2 linked regions of the Homo sapiens genome follow. The protein of the gene in region 1 interacts with the protein of each later gene in a pairwise test. Each region holds a gene or a part of one and is shown in the gene's direction. Other genes may lie near its edges. The genes, in order: SEMA6A and SORBS1.

What was found.
Region 2: the proteins of SEMA6A (region 1) and SORBS1 interact in a two-hybrid assay, tested with the Homo sapiens proteins (one study listed by BioGRID and IntAct).

What each region holds. Positions count from the first base shown.
Region 1 is NC_000005.10:116,562,924-116,572,891, reverse strand, and holds part of SEMA6A (semaphorin-6A isoform 2 precursor), read left to right. Parts: exon of another isoform or gene 1-171; intron 172-9,827; exon of another isoform or gene 9,828-9,968. UniProt on the Homo sapiens protein: Cell surface receptor for PLXNA2 that plays an important role in cell-cell signaling. Required for normal granule cell migration in the developing cerebellum.
Region 2 is NC_000010.11:95,550,422-95,560,389, reverse strand, and holds part of SORBS1 (sorbin and SH3 domain-containing protein 1), read left to right. Parts: intron 1-9,968. UniProt on the Homo sapiens protein: Plays a role in tyrosine phosphorylation of CBL by linking CBL to the insulin receptor. Required for insulin-stimulated glucose transport. Involved in formation of actin stress fibers and focal adhesions.

The sequences.
Region 1 (9,968 bases):
GGCGCTCCTGGAAAGTTTCCCTGAAAGCCAGGGGCGGCAGGCACGACCGGACTGGGGCTCAGCATGTGCAGTCTGAGGGAAGCCGGACCTGGAGGGAATCATGCGGACAGCTCGGGATGCAGCTAGGAGCTAGATCCCGGCCCTTTGGAGAGTGGAACCTCCTGGCCCGCGGTACTTGCTCGACAAGTCGGGGAAGGGATGAATGGGGAAGCAGGACCCCGGAGGCAGGTGCGGCCACTGTGGACAGAGGCTGTGGGGAAGGTGCGTGTGGACACAGGCCGGGGCTCAGTGGCTTGCAAGTAGGCAGCTTCAGGTGCAGAATCCCGAGCCATCTGCTCCCTGCGCACGATTTCCCAGCGTGGCTATCCAGGGAGGGAGGAAGCAGAGCCAGGTGTGCGTGGAGCGGGAGAGGAATGGGAGACTGGAGGCGCTGTCTTCACAGCCGGGGCAAGCACTTCCAGGGAGTCTCCGGCCTGTATCGCACTGGGGAGCCCTGCAGGCTTTTTCGCGTCGGTCTTTGGGAGAAAGGTGGCTGCTTTGGAACTGCGGTGGCCAGGCACAGCCACAGTGGGATCGCTCCTTTTTTTACGCTCAGCTTTTTTACGCTACTGAATGCGATCTGTGAAAGGTTTAAAACACAGGCGTGCATGGACACACACACGCACACACTCGCCCTTGTACGCACAACTTTCTTTACCTCAGATCTGAAAAGCCGTTTAACCCACTTGCAGTGTTGTGCCAGCAGGTCTCAGAAAAGCTATTTAATGCCCCCCAGCGCTGGTTTTTAAGTCTTGCCAGGATGGGAAGGTCGAGTGCCTTTGCCTTGTCTTTCTTTAGTCCTGAAATTGTTCGTCGTCCTTCCCCTGGTGGACACATCTTGGGCATCAAGTCTGTGGTATGCTACAGTGATGGCGGGGAGGACTGGTGGTTTAATTAATTATTTAATTATGTTTTCTCCCCAAAGTAAAGATGCCTATGTTTAATTCTGACTAAAAATACTCTACACTTTTTTATACCGTACCCAAATGGCTACCAGCGGTCAAGATTGCAAGAATTTTGTATGACTTTTTAATGCTGTGTTTAGTCTACATGGAGCAGTTTTATGATTTACAGTAAGCTTTGATTAAACTACTCCAGGCACCAAAGTTAATTATTAACCTAACCTTAAATACAGTGGCAGAACTATGTCTCCACCTATTAACCTAAACTATCTATTAAAAAATAATTGCACTAGCTATTTGAATTTGGTTTACCCATGCTTGTTTGTATGGTAACTTTTATTTGAATCTTGAGTAACCCTTACTCCCTGTTATTATTTTGGTTTTGGGACGTTCTTGAATGAGGCACTTTGCAAACCAGTTTAAAGCAGAAAAGAACGAACATCAAATTTAAAATCTTACTTTTGGTTATGAGTCATTTTTCAACTTGATGTAAAGAAGCATTCTACTTTATGTTTCTGATGTACAGTGTTTGTGGGTGACAACCTTCCCCATATGTTAGGTTTTGCAGCTATCACCTTTTAGAGATGTGCTACATTTTCAATAACGCATATAATCCACATATGTAAATGTTAAGCAGATACCGAAAATCATTTCTGAGGAGCCATCAGCTGAATATACTTATTGGACATAACAACTAAGCTTAAATAGGTAAAAATTTTATAAGAACCAGTATAGAACACTCAAGTAAATGTCGAATGAATGAAATAAATAGTCACACATGGTTCATGTTTGTCCACTTAAAGTGGACTTCTTTATTTTCCCTACAGTGAAAAAAAAAATATATGCCTTCAAGTGAGTGGTTATGATAAGGCGGCAATAAGTGCACCTTTTTATTTACACACAACACACACCCCTCAAGTTCTTCCAAAATCTAGTAAATGCTTTTTCCAACATTAAACACATATAGCAGTTGTATTTTGAGTAGGCGGGTAACATTGCACTAGTGAAGTCTAATGTGTTGAATCAGAAGTGTAGCAAGAATTAGGAAGACTGTTATCTTCACCAAATAAAAATGAGGCATCCAAATTAAGAACTTGTATTAAATTCAAAATAAGTAGTTATGCTTTAAAAGTAAATGGGTAGTTGCACTCCTATATGAAATGGAAGGAAAAATACTATTTTGAACCAGGAGTTAAGTCAGATAGTTTATTCTGTGTACATTGTGGTTCAGCGCTTTTCAGAACAGGACAAAAGAGTGATGATGGGATGAAAGTTTTTTTAGAACTAGATTGCCAAGAGCTAATATAGTCTCTCCATCTTATTTGTTTGCAGGAAGGAATCACAGAACAAGCTAAGCTAATTGCAAATGCTTTAATTAAGCATCTGCCATTTGTGTAAGGCAATGCCTAGGAAAGCCTATCTCTGCACTGCCCCTCTCCACACCCTTCTTTAGGTTTAGACAATTTTCTGTCCTCCTAGAGTAGAGGAGTGCTCCTTGACATATTTATATAGAAGCTTTGTGTTATGGCAGCCACATTTGTGCATGTTGAGGAAGGTGATGCCTTGAGGCGTTCTGCTGGGCCCTCCCATATCAGGAACCCCCCCCACTCTCTTGGGGTGCCTTGGAGCCAAGTTTTCTCTGAGATATTTCTATTTCAGCGTGAAGGCTTTTCTCATCTGCTTTAAAATGTGCTGCAAGAGCAACTGAGCTATTCTCTGCTGGCGACCACATGGTTGCCTCTTGGGGATATGGTAAGATAGAGAAAGGAGGGAGGCATTTAATCCCTTCGAAATGGGCAAATGAGATGTCATACCACACAAACCTCAAGGGGAGGAGTTCAGGACAACTTCTCACCATGGGACTACTGCATATAGTCTATACACAAGGGTATCTTGCTTTGTGAAACAGATGAGCTCTTGCAAAACTTTATTACAATAATTCCATTTACACCAATAGAGGGTATCATATAAAACCATAATACACAGATGATTCCCAAATAACCTCTTCAGCTTAGACCTCTCTCCTGGACCTCACAAATAACCAATGCTTAGTGGGTAGGTAGCTCCTCCTGAATAGACATCTCAAACTTAGGTTTAAAAAACCTAATTCTGTATCTTTCTCCCCCATATCTGCCTTTCTCATAGTCTTCTCCATCATAGTAAATGGCAACTCCATTCTTTGAGTTGCCGGCCCCCAAATTTAGTTCTCCTTGAAGCTTCTCTGTCACACCTACATCCATTGTGGCTGCAATGCTGTTGGCTCCACCTTTGGAATACCTGCAGGCTTCCTTCAGGTGTTCCTCCTCTGTGGCCCTCAAATTGGCCAAGCCATGGTCCTCTCCTGCTAGGTTTTCATGCCAGCTTCCCCACTAGCATTCCTGCCTCTGCCCATTTCTCAACACAGCAGCCAAAACACAGCAGTGATTTTTTTTTTAAACTAAACCAGATCAGATCACTACTTTGCTCAGATGTTTTCCCATCTTCTTCCAATAAAAGCCAAAGTCCTTCCTATGGCCTTTGCAGCCCCACATGATCTGCACTCAGGTTCCAACCTCTCTGACCTCCACCCCTTGGGCTTGCTTGAATCTGTCAAGCATGGCATATACTTGGGGTCCTTTGCAAGGACTTACTCTTTCATGCCTTGGGATGGTTCTTTCCCCAGATAGCTACATGATTTGCTTCTCATATTCTTCAGGTCTCTGTTCAAATGTCACTTTCTCAGTGAAGCCTTTTGATCCCCTTATTTACTTTACTCTTTCCCACAGCACTCCCCACCTCTTGGCAGTCCTTATTTTTTTCTTAGCATTTTTCACAGTCTGACAAACTATATGTTGTCCTTGTTGATTTTCTGTCTTCCACTAGAACATAATGCCATAAGGATAGACATTTTTAGGCTTTATTCACTCTGGCACCTAAAGCTGTGCCTGGCACATCATGGGCCATCCATAACAAGTGTTTGCTGAATGAATAAACAGTGAATCATTTTTGCAAACAACTAGTCTTTATTTTATCTATTTTGTCTGCCTTTGTTTTTCTATATCATGTTTTTATCAAATGAGATACTTCATGCATGCATGTGTGTGTGTGTACTTCATGCATGAATGTGTGTGTGTGTGTGTGTGTGTGTGTACAATCTTCCAAGCACATAGGTGGTATGGCTCATGCATCATTAGTGGAACATTCACTGTGTTGTTTTTCCAGTGGTAGTGATGGATTGGAGCCTGTTCATTCCCACATTCTCACCCAGTCCCCTCCTGTGTCCAAGAGCACACATCTGTGAGACACCTGGTTGTAGCTGGAGGGAGTCTGAGTTAGGTAAAATCAACTTGCCAAGAAACAGAGCTAAGAAGACAGCCAGCATTTGTGGGGATTGAGCTTTTGACCCTGGCCTCATTTGTTCTGCATTCTAACCACTGGCCATAGAACGTTCATGTTTTTTTGGAGTTTGCTAATAGTAGTTTTAAAATTCAACTTTCTATCAGGAGAATACAGCATACTTTATTAACCCATGTTTCTGCCCTGTACCCGTACAGTATATCTGCTGTTGAGGATCCTGCACTTGGAGACAAGAAGACCTGAGTTCCAGACTCTCACTACCTTGGACAAGTCACTTAACTTCTCTGTGGCTGCATTATTTTAATTGAAAATTATAAATAGTAAACCTATTCTTCCTAACTTATAGGATTACTGGGAAAATAATACGAAATCATGAATGTGAATGTATTTAGTGAAATATTACACGCATTGTGGAAATTTGGGAAGTTTGATGTTAACCCCCTCTTTCCCACTCTGGACCCTGGATATAACAGAGATCCTACTTCATCTTCTAAATTATTTTTGGTAGAATATACACTGTTCATGTAGTTTTAATGTAAATCACATTATGCAACTAAATAATATGTTCAAATTCATTGAAATTGTACAGTTCACCTAGAGCATGGATAGCAACTTTATTAATTAGAACACCTACCATGTCAAGGAAACATTGCTTTCAACATTATCATTAAATCAGGCAAGGTCATAGGAGTACCATTCTGCCAGGAATTAGTTTAAAAGTAAGATAATTGTTTTTGCTCAGTTAAATTCTGAAATAGTTCAAATCAGTGTAACGATTAATATGTCAGGGTGAACCAGGACTAGTAGAAGTTTCCATCTTTGTCATAACAAGGCCGAATTCGTTAGATCTTGTGGCGTGAGGTTAATAAATGTGAAGGGACCGTTGGAGGGAAGGTAGTGGACAACTCTAGAGGCATTGCGGAGGTCATGCTTTTTTGACAGACAATGCACGTGGATTTGTTTTGCCATTTACCAACAGTGTGACTTTATGCCAGTTTCCTTTCTCCTTCAGTTTTCATTTGCAAAGTGCTAGTATGATGATAATGTTATGGTTTTGAGAAGAATAAATGTGCTAACATCTGTAAAATGCATGTCACAATGCCGGGCACACAACAAGCAGTCATTCAACATAAGGTATTATTTTTACTTGAGTAACAGTAGTTACGAAAAATGTCCTAGGAATGGATTTTGAAAAAGCAGATAGTACTTTTATTCTGGGGGGCAGGGGAAATAGTAGAAAAGGAAATGGCTACGAATCTGTAATATAAAGAGATGATGCAAAAGAAAACAACCTTTGGACTAGAAACAAACATTCATACCATAAACAGGCCATAATGTCATGGGTTTTAAGTTGAGAAGCATGTGAATACATCACTTGCAGGGAAACAGGAAACAGGGAAACTTTGGAATTTGAAATATCACACCCAAAACATGGAAGGAAAAAACCACTATATATAAAAAATAATAATAATAACAAGCAGAGCCTTATATCAAATAGGAGCCCAAGGGATAGTTTTTGAAAAATGATAGCTATCACTTATTAACATTTTAATAATAAAATGTACACTCTGCACCTACATTTAGAATCTGAAAGCAACTCATAATGACAATTTTAGGGATGAGTTGAATTCCCAAGGACCACACCTGTCTTAGGAGAGAAACTCGGCTGCTGATTGGAACCCTTGAGGAGGTTGTGGCTAGGACTTCTGCAAGAGGGTCTTCAGGTTGGGCATGCATCTGCCAGGTCACTCTTCCCTGGCCAAGCTTGAAATCAATTTGGGAGCAAAAGCAAACTACTGCCTTCCACACCAAAGGTAGGAAATAATTGGCTGACCCCAGTAGAGATAGCAGTTATTCTGCTGACAGACACACTACTACAAAACCTGAAATTTGATTCAAATGATAGTCATACAAGTTCTTATCAGTGAGAAAAATCTGACTTCTAAAAGGCACAGCAGAAGGGGAAATAAATTGATGTTATCACCACAATTCCCTGCTACCATTATGTTTTCCAGGAATGCCTCCATGGCTTAGAGTTACAGTTATTTTCAACTAGGAAATAAAATGTTCTCAAACTCTGTAAGTGGAAACAGAATGGAAAGAGTGTGAGATAAATCAGTAATTAACATGCTGCAAGGACCGAAGTTTCAGATCCTTCTTAGCAGCCAGTATGGTGACTTTTGCTTAGAAAGCATTGTTAGTAATAGATACTTCCTCATGCAGCCTTTAGACTTGAAGCTTTCTTTTAATATTCCTAGGTGCTTTCTAGGAATTTCCAACTAACCTATAATTGTCATCTGTAGAACATTAAATTCAAAGAATCCATGCCAATTAAAAAAATTTAGCAGAAGAAGCTCTAAAGTTGGTGCTGTTTACGCCTTTCTTAGCCCTTCTGCCCCTCTACGCTTCAAAGACCAGCCTTTGGCCATGATTTGATTAGAAGCATTTATAGAACAGAACAGGATCTGGCATTAAATACAATGAAAACATGCCATTGGAAAATAAACATTGTTAGAGACTACGAAGAAATAAAGATTGTATTAATTATGTTTTAATGTTCTATGAGGGTTTTACAGACAAGCTGTGATAGATCCATTCTTCTTTCCCTGTTCCTATTCCTGATTCGTTTTTTAAAGAAAAGTATTCAGTCTTTTCATTAATATTGCAGCGACTTCAGCACTTCCCCGCCCCTCCCCCAGACTCCTACTGTCCTTGAATGAGGAAACTGAGAGAATACTGATTGAGCTGGTGAATGGAAACGTTCCTTTCCTGAAAATGGAATGCTTTACAAAAAATTGCATTCCACAAAAAAACACTCAAAACAATTCAACAACTGTCCCTCCTCCTTTCTACCCAGAGAGCCACTTGATTTCATTCACATATTTTGGTTTTTCAATGTATTTGTTCTTAGGCCTAAAATACCCAGGTGGAAAACCATTCTATTAAGCCTTTCACTATTTTAAAAACATGAGCATCTGAGTTTCTAAGAACATTCTCATTCCTGCATAGTGAGCGATAAATAGAAACCAAATTGTTTGTAGCATTCTAAACTCAAGTATATTGGCAGAATGGCAGTGGAGTTGATTTTTATAAGAATACTTGTTAATGGTTTTCGAGACGGATTCTGTGCTAATTCTTCTTGTATCATGAATGATGGCCCTAGCTAGACACTGTCGCTGGGATCTTCATCTGTTAATCATGGAGGCTGCTTTCTTATTCGGTTGCCATAGTTTCAGTGCCTCACATAGTGTTGGGGTGTCTTGGGAAAGGTTTGAGATATACTAGGGCTTGCAAGCCTTGCAGTTATTTTGACAGTTGTGCTCTGAAAGACTGAAAACCGCTTCTCGTATAATTCAGTGTTGGATTAAAAGAGGCAACTTCTGAGAGTGTCTCCCTGGACCTTGTTATGTGCACATCCAGCTGGTATTTAATCCAGGATTTGCCTCTTGCTCAGTCTTGCTGGCAAAAAAAATAAATAAATAAAAATACAGTACAGAGGCTGATGTCACTTTCATATTTCAACAAGAAAGCAAAGGGACGCAAACTCTTCATTAAGACTATTCACAAATGTGGAGGTAAATGAGGCCATTCATGACTTTGCTTAAAATTTCTGCTCCATAATTTGGCTTTGGCTTTGCAGATTACTAAATAAATAAAATGACATCATGATTGCTGTGTGCCGTGTGTTATTTTGGCAATGGAAACATGTAGAGCTTTACTTCAGGTTTAACCTTTCCTTTTTTACACTTGACACTCATTGCTAAGGAGCTAGAGACCATTTTACTGTATTTTGCAACAAAAGGCTCATACATTTTGGACTGTAGGTCTACTGCTTTGTCAACTCGTGAATAGTATATGAACATTTTTCAATTATTTAATAATTTCAATATTTTGCTATTTTTTTTTAGGTTTGTGACTTTAGAGTTGATTAGAGAATGTTCTCCAGTGGTGTATATATTGTGTGACTTGGTCAAGAAAGGATTTGGGGAGTAAATTGCTGTAAGAGGGTGATACACATACACACATTCTGGCGATTTATGTGCTTCACGTGTGATGCAGAACACAGCTTGCTTCTGGTTGGCAAATTTGGCCTTGTGCAACGGATAGTGGTACACTTCATGTTTCAGTTTCCATTTCTCAAGTGGACTTTCAAGGACTCCTACCAGTCTAAGCCAAGCAATTTAATTCCTTTGTAGATTAAAACATAAAATAATCTCACACTGGAAGCAAACAGTGTTGAATTCAAGACATGCAAAGCATAAGTGAAAATCTAGGCTGATTTAGAAGAAGAAACTTTGAATTCCTTACAAATGGGACTAATCTAGAAAATCAGTCATTTTTTTCCTTTTTACTAGAAAATGACTAGTTTTTATTTCAGAATGAGCTTCAAGGCAGCGTTTTAAATTTCTCCAGATCCAGCCTGCCAACATTTTTGTGTAAGATCAACAAGCATTTTTAATGCACGTGCCTATTTTGTTGACCCATCCGTTACCCAACCACATTAAAGGATTGATTTTAGAGGCCAATAATGTGAAGTAAATTAAAAGGATAACATGGCCTTAATTGCTACTGGTTTCACCGGGCTTCTAGGCACCGGAATTTCTTGTGGAGAAACACTTTAAGTGTCACAGCAGTTTTTGATCATGTGGTCTGGCTCACCCAGAGGCTTCAATTATCTCCCAGCCCTTCTCCACCTCCCCTCAGATATCTCTGAGAAGCAAAGAAAATGTGCATTTGTAAATTCAGTATTATGGACCCCTGATTATTTGGCAGGGTAAGAAAATAGGTTCTGTTCATTTTACAGTATTCGCATAGGCTAGATGTTTAAACAACAACAAAAGACATGGAATGGAGGAGAACAGTGGGAGTAAGATCAAAGCTTTTTTCATTAAAAAGAATTTTGTTGAATTGAGTTCATTCTCTCAAATGATAACAAGATTGTGATTACTCTTGGGTGTCGGGTTAGACACAACATTGCACACGTAGCTTAAGAAAAGTAAAAAGTACTTTTTGTGTAGATGTCAGTCAAATACAATGTGGACTTTAATTAACCTTAATTAATGATTTCTGATTACAGATTTTCTTTTGTGTGCCTTGGAGGCTGTATTTAGGTAGAGTATTTTCAGCCAGTAGTGACATGAACTTGCTTCCTTTGTCTTGCCATGCAAACCACACTAGATTCTCATTACAAGGAAAAATGTGATTCTGCATCATTTCAGAATGGTCATACAAAGAATGAAATATCACTTGGGGAACAACTGAAATTTGTAAGTGGTGTGGAGTATTTGAATCTTCAGAGGAACCATTCCTAATTTTAAAGGAATTTACCTATCAAAATTGCTGATATTTACTGGCTTCTGGCTGGATTCGAGGCCATTCCTTCCAAAGATTGAATGGGATTTTGAGTGGTGCCCCAGTTCTTTCAAATAAAAGCATACTGCAGAAGTGCTGGACCTAGCAGCATTTCCTTTGCCCAAGTGTACCCTTTATAAAGTACTAAACATAGCAACTAGGGAATATTGTAGACACTGTAGAGAATTGGGCCTTTGTTTTTCATGAAGGGAATTTATTAACAAAATATTTTGAGGAGTCTTGTCTTGTTCACAGATGGCGACCACGGCGACCCCCCTTCCTGCGGGTGCTGTCAGAGAGGATGGGGGGGACGTCCTCTATCCACCCCATCTTCATACC
Region 2 (9,968 bases), on another chromosome or scaffold:
CTTTCTCCAGGCAGACAAGAATTTATTACGCTATTACATTGCTACGTAAAAGCAGAAGGGATCCCACTGAGCATGGCTCGTTTTGTTCAGTCCTCGGTTTTTCCCAGCATGTTCTGGGCGAGCCTTTGGATTTTTGTTTTAAACACTGAGCGTTGGGATGCCCCTGTTGTCACAGGGCCGACCTGCTGAAATTGCTGGAATTGGTTTCATCGTCAATAGGAGGGAGGTTCATCTAGAGACATCATGGAACCTATCTGGCGTGTCAGGCCTCTGACTCCATCTCTCCCCTCAACACCCCCCCCCCCGCCCAGCCCCCCGCGCCCTTTTTTCCTCTTAAGTGGAGGCGGGGGATGGATTGGCTGTCTTCACTCTCCTTGTGTTTTGAGCTCCTCTGCTTAGATTCAATTCTGTGGTTTTGGTTGGAAAGGTATCTTGGTGGTGATCGAAGAGAGGAGGGTTGGATTAAAAGTGGGGTGGACACAGAGGGGTCAGCAGCATCAATGACAGAAGACAGATGATGGACATATCTACAGCCTTCAGACACCGATGAGGCAGATGGCTGTCTACAGAGTGAGGGGCGTGTGTTTGGGCTGTGAGGGGGAGGGGTGGAGGAGGAGGATGCCTCCAGCAGTTTTCTGCCCCGCCCTCTGGATGCTGCCTTAAATAGCCCCTTGCCAACCAAGCTCTGATGTCTCTTTCTTGGCCTGAGGGGAAAGAAGGGAAGGGTTGGTCTGTTGGCACCTTTGCCCAAGGCACTGTTGGAGCAGATGGTTAGGAAAGGGTTAGTTCTCCAGGGGTTGCAGAGAGCACATTTCTCAGCTGGAGGGCCCTGAGACCACTCCTTTGGCGACTTCCCTGCAGGGAATTAGCAACTGAAATGAACTGCTGTCTACCCTGTGGGGTAAAGAGTTGGGAGGGTATTGTCATCTTGTGGACGATACCCGCCTTGTTGGCCTTTTCCTTCTCCTACCTGCTTTCATTTGTTGTAGTTGGAGAGTTTCTGTATACTTTTCGGAAGAGATTGGGCATATTGGGGAGTGGGTAGGAGTTATGGGAAAGGATGAGCAAATTCTTCCTGGCAGAACAAAGCACTGTTCAGCTGTTCCTCTCTTTCCCCTTCTCTAAAATAAGAGTTCAATACAGATAGCAGAGTCTAGGGTTTTCTTTGTAAACAATGAAAGGGCAGGGCCAGGAAAGAAAGTTTTTATTGTGCAGCATTGATAATGATCAGGTCATCCTAACTTATCTCCAGACCCTTCCCTGGATGTGGAGATAGATTTGCTGTAGAGGGCACTCTATGGTAATTTAGGATTTGACCTGTCTCTAGGAGAAAGGCATGGATGGTCTCAAAAAGCTTTGGTGGAGAAGCTCTGGACCAGAGGCAGGACAGCTAGCTTTGGTCCTGGCCACCAATCTTTGGGCTTTGGGCTAGTGGCTTCTGCTCTCTGGGCCTGTGTCCTTGCTGGTGAAGTGGAGGATGATAGGGCAGAAGGTCTTCCAGGGTTCCTGACAACTCCACTGTTCTTAGAGTCACAGTTTGTGATGGCATTTTCAGGTTCTTTCCTGTTTGCTAAATTGATAATAAATTCAAAGTATTGCACAATGGCATAGAAGAAGCATTCTAGGATGCAGGCTTCTGTTGGATTCACATCTACCTTTTCCTTGATTAGTGTGATTTGTGAGGTTTTACTGTAAGTATGTAAACAATTCAGAGCTAGAACGGTCCAGAGTGAGAGGCACAGACCCCAGAGTGAGTGGTTGTGGGAGATGAGGGTGGGATGATAGATTGCTGAGGAAAGGGAGTTTCTGTAATTTGTTCTCTTTCCCTGTGGATGTTTAACTTGCTGGTTTATTCATGGTTACACAGGTGAACGTTTACCTATCTAGAAGATGAGAGTTATAAAAGACCTCTGTGATTGCCATGTTCCTCCCCCTTCCCCGCCAAACTGAGGAATTTGAGGGGTTGGGAGGTTTGGCCATTTTTCCAAGGTTGCACAGCTAGCAAGATGTGGAGCTGGGGTGGGAACTCGGGGGGATAGATTGTAGATCTTGTTTCCAGATGTATCTGGGTTTTTTTGTTTTTTGGTGGTGGTGGTTGTTTTGAGACAGGGTCTCACCTGTCACCCAGGCTGGAGTGCAGTGGCACAATCATGGCTCACTGCAGCCTCGACCTCCTGGGCCCAGGCAGTCCTCCTACCTCAGCCTCCCGAGTAGCTGGGACCACAGGCACGCACTACCACACCCAGCTAATTTTTGTACTTTTTGTAGAGACAGAGTTTTGCGGTGTTGCCCAGGCTGGTCTCAAACTCCTGGACTCAAGCGATCCGCCTGCATTGGCCTTCCAGCATGCTGGGGTTATAGGCTTGAGCCACGGTGCCCGGCCTATATGTATCTGTTAAGCCCCCTCTTCCTCTGAGAGAAATGATTCTAAGATGGAATAGCGAAACATGAGGAGGAAATAGGAGCACAAGAAGAGAGAGATTGGAGAAACAGACGAGAAAGTAGGAGGCTGGGGACAGATTATGTGGGGAAGGGAAAAACACAGAAACCAAGCTTGGAGGAGAAAAGGATGGAGCTTGAAAGGGGGAGGCTCTATTGTCTCTGAAACAGCTGAGCTCTTCTGCAGCCCTTGGGGTGAAGTGAGGGGAGGTTTGGTAGCCTAGGATGGGGGGTGGGGGGGTGGACTGAGAGTTCAACCTCAGCCTGAGACTGTCTTGGAATCTCCTTGGGATTGCTCCTGTTGACCCTCAGATTGCAAAGTGTCATGGAGGCTGCTTAGTTTCAGGACCAACTGAGGCCTTTAGATCCACGGGAGCATGCAGAATGTGGACATGTGGGAAGTCAGGTGTGCGGGTGGTGATGCTGGCTGATGCTGAGGTGGGACTCAGTTCTGCTGAAGTCCCGGTTTTTTTGTAAATGCAAAACTCAGAACACTTTTCCATGGATTTCGTTTCAGTGCAAGCAGCATTTTCTCCTTGGATTTTCATCGGTGCTTTGAATGTTTTATGAGATAGTGTTTCGAATACTCCCTTTTCAGAGGAGATACTTGGAGATGAATGATTTACTGAATTGTAGCTCATTTGGGGGAGCTTCTGGCTTGTGACCTAAGCTAAGCCTCAGAATGTTTCAATGAGCAATTAAAGAGCTGTGAACAGTGGTTGACCAGAGCACTAACCATTCAAAGGCAAGGATAAAAGGTGATAATAGTTCAAGGTCTGGAGCTACAGCCAACAGCTGGCCATGAACAATGTAACTGACTTTGGCTAACTCTTCAAGCCCTAGAAAGTGTCTCTGTGGGTCCTTTGGTGGCTCCCCCTTTTTGTGTGCGGTTAGGCATGTGGACCCGTCCCTGAATCTTGCTGTCTCCCATTCTTCTTTTGCTACATCTCCCTCCACTATCCATTTCTTTTTCTTACCTCTTTCTCCTTGCCCTCCTCCCTCATTCTTTCTTTATTATCAACAATATATCTTTGTAGTTTCTTTTAATCTATTGCCATTAAAATTTCATGTTCTCTGTTCTTCATTTCAAATCAGTCGAGGGCCAGGCAAGGTAGCTCATGCCTGTTATCCGAGCACTTTGGGAGGCTGAAGCAGGTGGATCACCTGACGTCAGGAGTTCAAGACCAGCCTGGTCAACATGGTGAAACCCCGTCTCTACTAAAAATACAAAAATTTAGCCGGGTGTGGTGGCAGGCACCTGTAGTCCCAGCTACTCGGGAAGCTGAGGCAGGAGAATGGCATGAACCTGGGAGGCGGAGCTTGCAGTGAGCCAAGATCGCGCCACTGCACCCCAGCCTGGGCGACATAGCAAGACTCCGTCTCAAAAAAAAAAAAAAAAAAAAAAGACAAAAATTAGCTGGGTGTGGTGATGGGTGCCTGTAATCCCAGCTACTCAGGAGGCTGAGGCAGAAAGAATTGCTTGAGCCTGGGAGGTGGAGGTTGCAGTGAGCCGAGATTGTACCACTGCACTCCAGCCTGGGGGACAGAGTGAGACTCCATCCAAATAAATAAATAAATAAAATCAGTTGAATTCAGTCTTTTTTGAATGTGTATGTGTTTTACACACAAAACAAAAAAGAGGCAAATGAACCAAATCCAACTAAATTGCTTTTTACTTCTGTGTGGCCTTCCATTGATTTATCCCCCCACTTCTTCTGTGGTCAGCAGTGGCTTTTTATAGAAAAAAAAGTTCCCAGGTCTCTGTCATGCGGTTATTGTTTTCACAACAATAGAAAAAAGTTTCCACCCTTGTATTGTGGACCACAAGGGACACCCTCTCTCAAGGGATGTACCCTGTTTCTAGACTTCCTTCCATGGAAAAAGTGTCTTTAATGCATTCTGTAACAGAGGCCTGTACTGTAAGGGGTTAGGGGTGCTGATAGTGGAGGTGGGGCTCTTCTCAGTGACTGCGGTACTGCTTAGAATAGGGGCTGGCGGGCTATGGCCTAGAGAGTATATCTAGGAAGAATTAGCATCGTTGTTTTCTCTGTTTCCTCAGGCTGAGCTAACCTAACTGGCTGTAGCAGGACCCAGACCCTTTTGGAAAAGAATGAGATGCTTGTTAACTTTCTGATTAGTGTTGAGTGGGACCCAAGGTATGTCTTCTGCCCACCTTGGGAGGGTGGGCACCCACCGACAGTTGCTGGTGTAAAGTTCCCGGATTCTTTGATGGATGGATGCTGTACCGCTTTATGATTTTCTTCTGACTCTAATTAGTTACAGAGAGGATTGACTCTTGATGCTCAGTGGTCAGCAAGTACTTTAGTATCTAAAGTGGGCCTTGCAAACAAGAAGTCACCTTGTCACATTAGGTTTGTATTCTCTGTAATATATGTGTACTGGTTTTAGTATAAAAGTATTTAAGTTGCTTTACTGTTGAATACAATTGACGTTCTACGAAAATGTGTTTATTGTGGGCCCTCATTTGTACCAGCCCTCTGTAAATATGCATATCAGTCTCATACCCCAACTGGAGAAGCCGGGGATAGGGTAGGCATCAAACCTGCTGGTGCTGAGAACCACCCCTCCATGCTTTCCTGCTGGCTCTGCCAAACCACCAGATGCCCGGTCATTCCCTACTCCACGTCCCCAAAGGCCAGGCCCCCCTGCACCCCCCACCAGGACTGGTTCCCTCACCAGAAGGCCTTTTTCTGCGTTTCCTGGCTGATGCCTTCTCCCCTCAGACTCCCCTCACATCTTAAAGAGATGCCTTTCAGCTGGGCGCGGTAGCTGTAATCCCAGCACTTTGGGAGGCCGAGGCAGGTGGATCACCTGAGGTCAGGAGTTCGCGACCAGCCTGGCCAACATGGTGAAACCTCCTCTCTACTAAAAGTACAAAAAATTAGCCGGGCGTGGTGGCGCATGCCTGTAGTCCCAGCTACTCAGGAGGCTTAGGCAGGAGAGTCACTTGAACCCGGAAGGTAGAGGTTGCAGTGAGCCGAGATCACGCCATTGCACTCCAGCCTGGGTAACAAGAGCGAAACTCCATCTCAAAAAAAAAAAAAACAAACAAAAAAAGAGATGCCTTTCTTCTTGTGTTCAGCTTTCTACTTCTGTTGATATTGCTGGTTCCCTTGTCTGTTTCCTCCCCCATATTGTGAGTTCTGGGAATAGAGTGAGTCTGTGTTTCTTCTCTTTTTAAATTAAATTTTAATTTGTATAAAACTTTCGCGTGTGTGTGTGTGTGTGTGTGTGTGTACACAGAGAGTTTCTTTTTTGTTTGTTTTGAGACAGAGTCTCCCTCTGTTGCTTAGGCTGGAGTGCAGTGGCATGATCTCAGCTCACTGCAACCTCTACCTCCCGGGTTCAAGCGATTCTCCTGCCTCAGCCTCCCTAGTATCTGGGACTACAGGAGACCACCACCCCCCCAGCTAATTTTTTTATTATTAGTAGAGACAGGGTTTCACAGTGTTGGCCAGGCTGGTCTCGAACTCCTGACCTCAAGTGATCTGCCTGTCTTGGCCTCCCTAAGTGCTGGGATTACAGGCCTGAGCCACTGTGCACCCCCACCCCGCACAGAGTTTTGAAAGACAAATAGGCTGGGTGTGGTGGCTCACGCCTGTAATCCCAGCACTTTGGGAGGCTGAGGTGGGCGGATCACCTGAGGTCAGGAGTTTGAGACCAGCCTGGCCAACATGGCAAAATCCCATCTCTACTAAAAAAATACAAAAATTAGCCAGTCACGGTGGCGGGCGCCTGTAATCCCAGTTAATCTGGAGGCTGAGGCAGGAGAATCACTTGAACCAGGGAGGCGGAAGTTGCAGCGAGCTGAGATTGTGCCACTGCACTCCAGCCTGGGCAACAGAGCCAGACTCCCTCTCAAAAAAAAAAAAAAAAAAAAGTCAATACTACTAGAAAAATATAAAGGCTGCCTGGGCGCAGTGGCTCATTCCTGTAATCGTAGCAGTTTGGGAGGCTGAGGCCGGCGGATCACTTAAGGCCAGGAGTTCAAGATCAGCCTGGCCAACATAGTAAAACCTTATCTCTGCAAAAAATACAAAGAATTAGCCAGGCATGGCAGTTAGGATATAGACATCCTTGAGGGGCTGCTGTTACTCTGTTTACAACAGTTACTTCTAATGCACTGAGCTGTTTCTCCTGATATTACTATCATATTTATTGTTACCTGCTTACAATGCTGTTTTCTGATTGTCCATTTTAGATGTTATTTTTATTTTTCCTTATTTTTCTTTTTGTAGAGACAGGGTCTTGCTATGTTGAGACCCTGCTTGAGGCCAGGGTGGACTTTAACTCCTGGCCTGAAGCACTCCTCCTACCTGGGCCTCCTAAAGTTCTGGGATTACAGGTGTGAGTCACCATGCCCAGCTTAGAGGTTACTTTTAGATGTTATGTCTTGATGTCTTACTATGGATTAGATCCTCTCCTCTGCCCCCCAATACTTCCCTTTCTCCCTATCCTCTCATTATAGATATATCACAGTTTTTGATTACATTGATATTTGGTGCTTACATTATTTTGGCTGTGTAAATAGTGTTCATGACAGAGCCATATAGTATACTATAATATTTTCTTTCTTGTACATTTTTTGAGTTAATAATTATCTTACATTTTCTATTTACTTAGTTTCTATGTACTTATTGCTAATTCTCAAAGTATTTGACAGCATCTTAAGACATTTGTTTTATAACATGTGTTCCTATTTATTTATTTATTTATTGAGATAGGGCCTTGCTCTGTCCACCAGGCTAGAGTGCAGAGGTGCGATTGTAGCTCATTGCAGCCTTGACCTCCTGGGCTCAAGTGATCCTCCTGCCTCAGCCTCCTGAGTAGCTAGGACTACAGGCACCACCATGTCCAGCTAATTTTTAAAGTTTTTTGGTAGAGATGGGGTTTCACTACATTGCCTAGGCTGGTCTCTAACTCCTGCCCTCAAACAATCCTCCCTCCTCAACTTCTCAAAGTGCTAGGATTACAGGCATGAGCCACCGTGCCTGCGCTTGTTCCTTTTTATTTTATTACTGTTTTTTTTTTTTTACGCCCGCTTGGAGACTTCCCTCCTATAGGCCTCCATTCTGTCTCCTTTGTTCTTGCCCATTGACCTCTAGGCCTGTGGCATGACTCATCCTGGGAATTCCCTCACCTTATCCTGGGTGGGATCCTGTTTCCTTTGTTGATTTATTCTTCCACAAGTTTCTGAGAGAGGGTCTGTGGAAGTTGATCACTTTAAGCTTACAGGTCTGAAAATGTTCATATTCTACATTCATATTCGATTGGTGATTTGATTCATCTAGAATTTGAAGTCGAAAGCCATTTCCCTTAGAATTTTGAAGCCATCATTCCACTGTCATCTAGGTTCTAATATTGGTATCAAAATTCGGATACCATTCTGATTCTTGATCATTTATGGATAACCTGATTTCTCACTGAAAGTTTTTGGGATCTTCTCTCTTTTCCTGTATTTGAAATCTCCTTGCTTTAAAAATGATTGGCCTGGGTCTTTGGTGTGGGCCTTTTTTTTTTTTTTTTTTGAGATGGAGTCTCACTCTGTTGCCCAGGCTGGAGTGCAGTGGTGCAATCTCGGCTCACTGCAACCTCCGCCTCCCGGGTTCAAGCGATTCTCGTGCCTTAGCCTCCCAAGTATCTGGGATTACAGGCGCATGCCACCACGCCCAGCTAATTTTTGCATTGTTAGTAGAGATGGGGGTTTCACCACGTTGGCCAGGCTGGTCTCAAATTCCAGACCTCAGGTGATCCACCCGCCACGGGCTCCCAAAATGCTGGGATTACGGGTGTGAGCCACTGCGTCCAGCCGGTGTGTGCCTTTTTGATCTGAAGATTGACGTCTTTCAGTTTGGGGAAATTTTCTTAATTAGATATATTTTAATAATTTCATTTTCTCCATTTTCTGTGTTTTGTCTTTGGCATGCCTATTAGCTGAATGTTGGACTTCCTGGAGCAAGTTTATAATTTTAAAACATTTTATTTCCTTTTTTCATTTTATTATATTTTTGTCTTTCAGAGAGCTATCTTCAGCTTTATCTTCAACTCTTTTCCATTTTTAACTGTGCTTTCATGTGTTTACGTGGAACATATTTGCATGTTTTACTTTGTAAGAGCTCCCTAGTTCTCTGAATACTTGCTTTTCTTTTTTAGATGACATTCTATTCTTGTTTCATGGGTACAGTAAATTCCTTTATATTAAGGGTTTTGTTTGTTTGTTTTTGTTTTTTTTATGGTTTTCTGCTGTTCCCTGCTGTCCCTTGGAAGATGTTGTTTCTTCCAAGTCCCTTTTTCCATTTGTTTTGGTTACTGTATCTTCCATTGCAGCTATCCTTCCATGCATGCTGATCCTTGACTGTCTATGTATATTTTAAGAATGGACACCGAAATGCTGATTGGGCATCAGTGCCACAAGGAAGGGAGTCGTTAACTTCATTGTAGAGTGACCCAGCAGAGAGCCCCCTTTTTCTCTACTGGAGCAGCCTAGATATCAGCGCCGGTAGATCTTTTTCCTGGGGCTTTCCTGGATAGGGCTTTCTTGGAGAGGATTTTACCTGGGTGTGGGGTAGGGTGGGGTGGGGTGGTAAACAGCCTGGCCTTCCTGCATTCTGGGAGCCTCCATGGGGAAAGGGGCTAGGTATTAGTCTGTTTGATATGCAGACTTTCACTCAATCCCTGGGTCTTTTGAAAGTTGCCCCCACCTGCCATCCCTCTCTCCCATCTCTCTACCTCCCTCAGCTGTGTCCCTCCCTTGGCTGTATCTCTGGTGTAAGTTACCTGATCAGTGGATCTCCACCTTCTGCTAGCTGAGGCAGGGAAATCACCAGGCTGAGCAGACTGCAAGAGGGACCCTGGGTCTGACTGCTCTTTGTACCAACTTGCAGGCAGGCACCCTTCTTTTTAGCTTTACCCTGCTTTTCCCTTTAGAGTCCTTGGTGCCTCCACTTCCTGAACTGTCTTTGTGTTCTGTGCCATGAGTTGGGCACTTGTTTAGTGGCTCCTGCTCTGCTTGCACTTAGCAGAGCAGACAATGCGGAAACCTAAATCAGCTACTGCATGGTGGTCAGCTCTCCACTGCTGTTGACATATCTCATCTGCTGGGGTCTCTTTTTTCATTAAGAAATGCATCCGTCTACTGTCCTTTTAGTGGGAGTCCAGAAGAGAGCAGAGATAAACATGGGTGTTCAGCTCTCTGATTTGACCAAAAGTTTGTTTCATTTCTTCATTCACACACTTAAATTTGTGCCTGATATAGAGTATATTCTCAAGAAGTGTTTGTTAAATGATTGAAAGCCCGTTCCTAGGATGATATGCGTACATTTAGTCATCAGATTTCAAGACACCCAAACATACAGTGTTGCAAAAATAAATCCGTCGCTTATTCTGAGATAGACATAATAATAGGCAGCAGATCCTGCCTATTCTCCCCATGCAGTGGAGGATAAGACGCACTGGGAGGGAGACAGTGTTACAGAGTGTTGCTGTCTTCAGCCCTGTCAGTAACTACC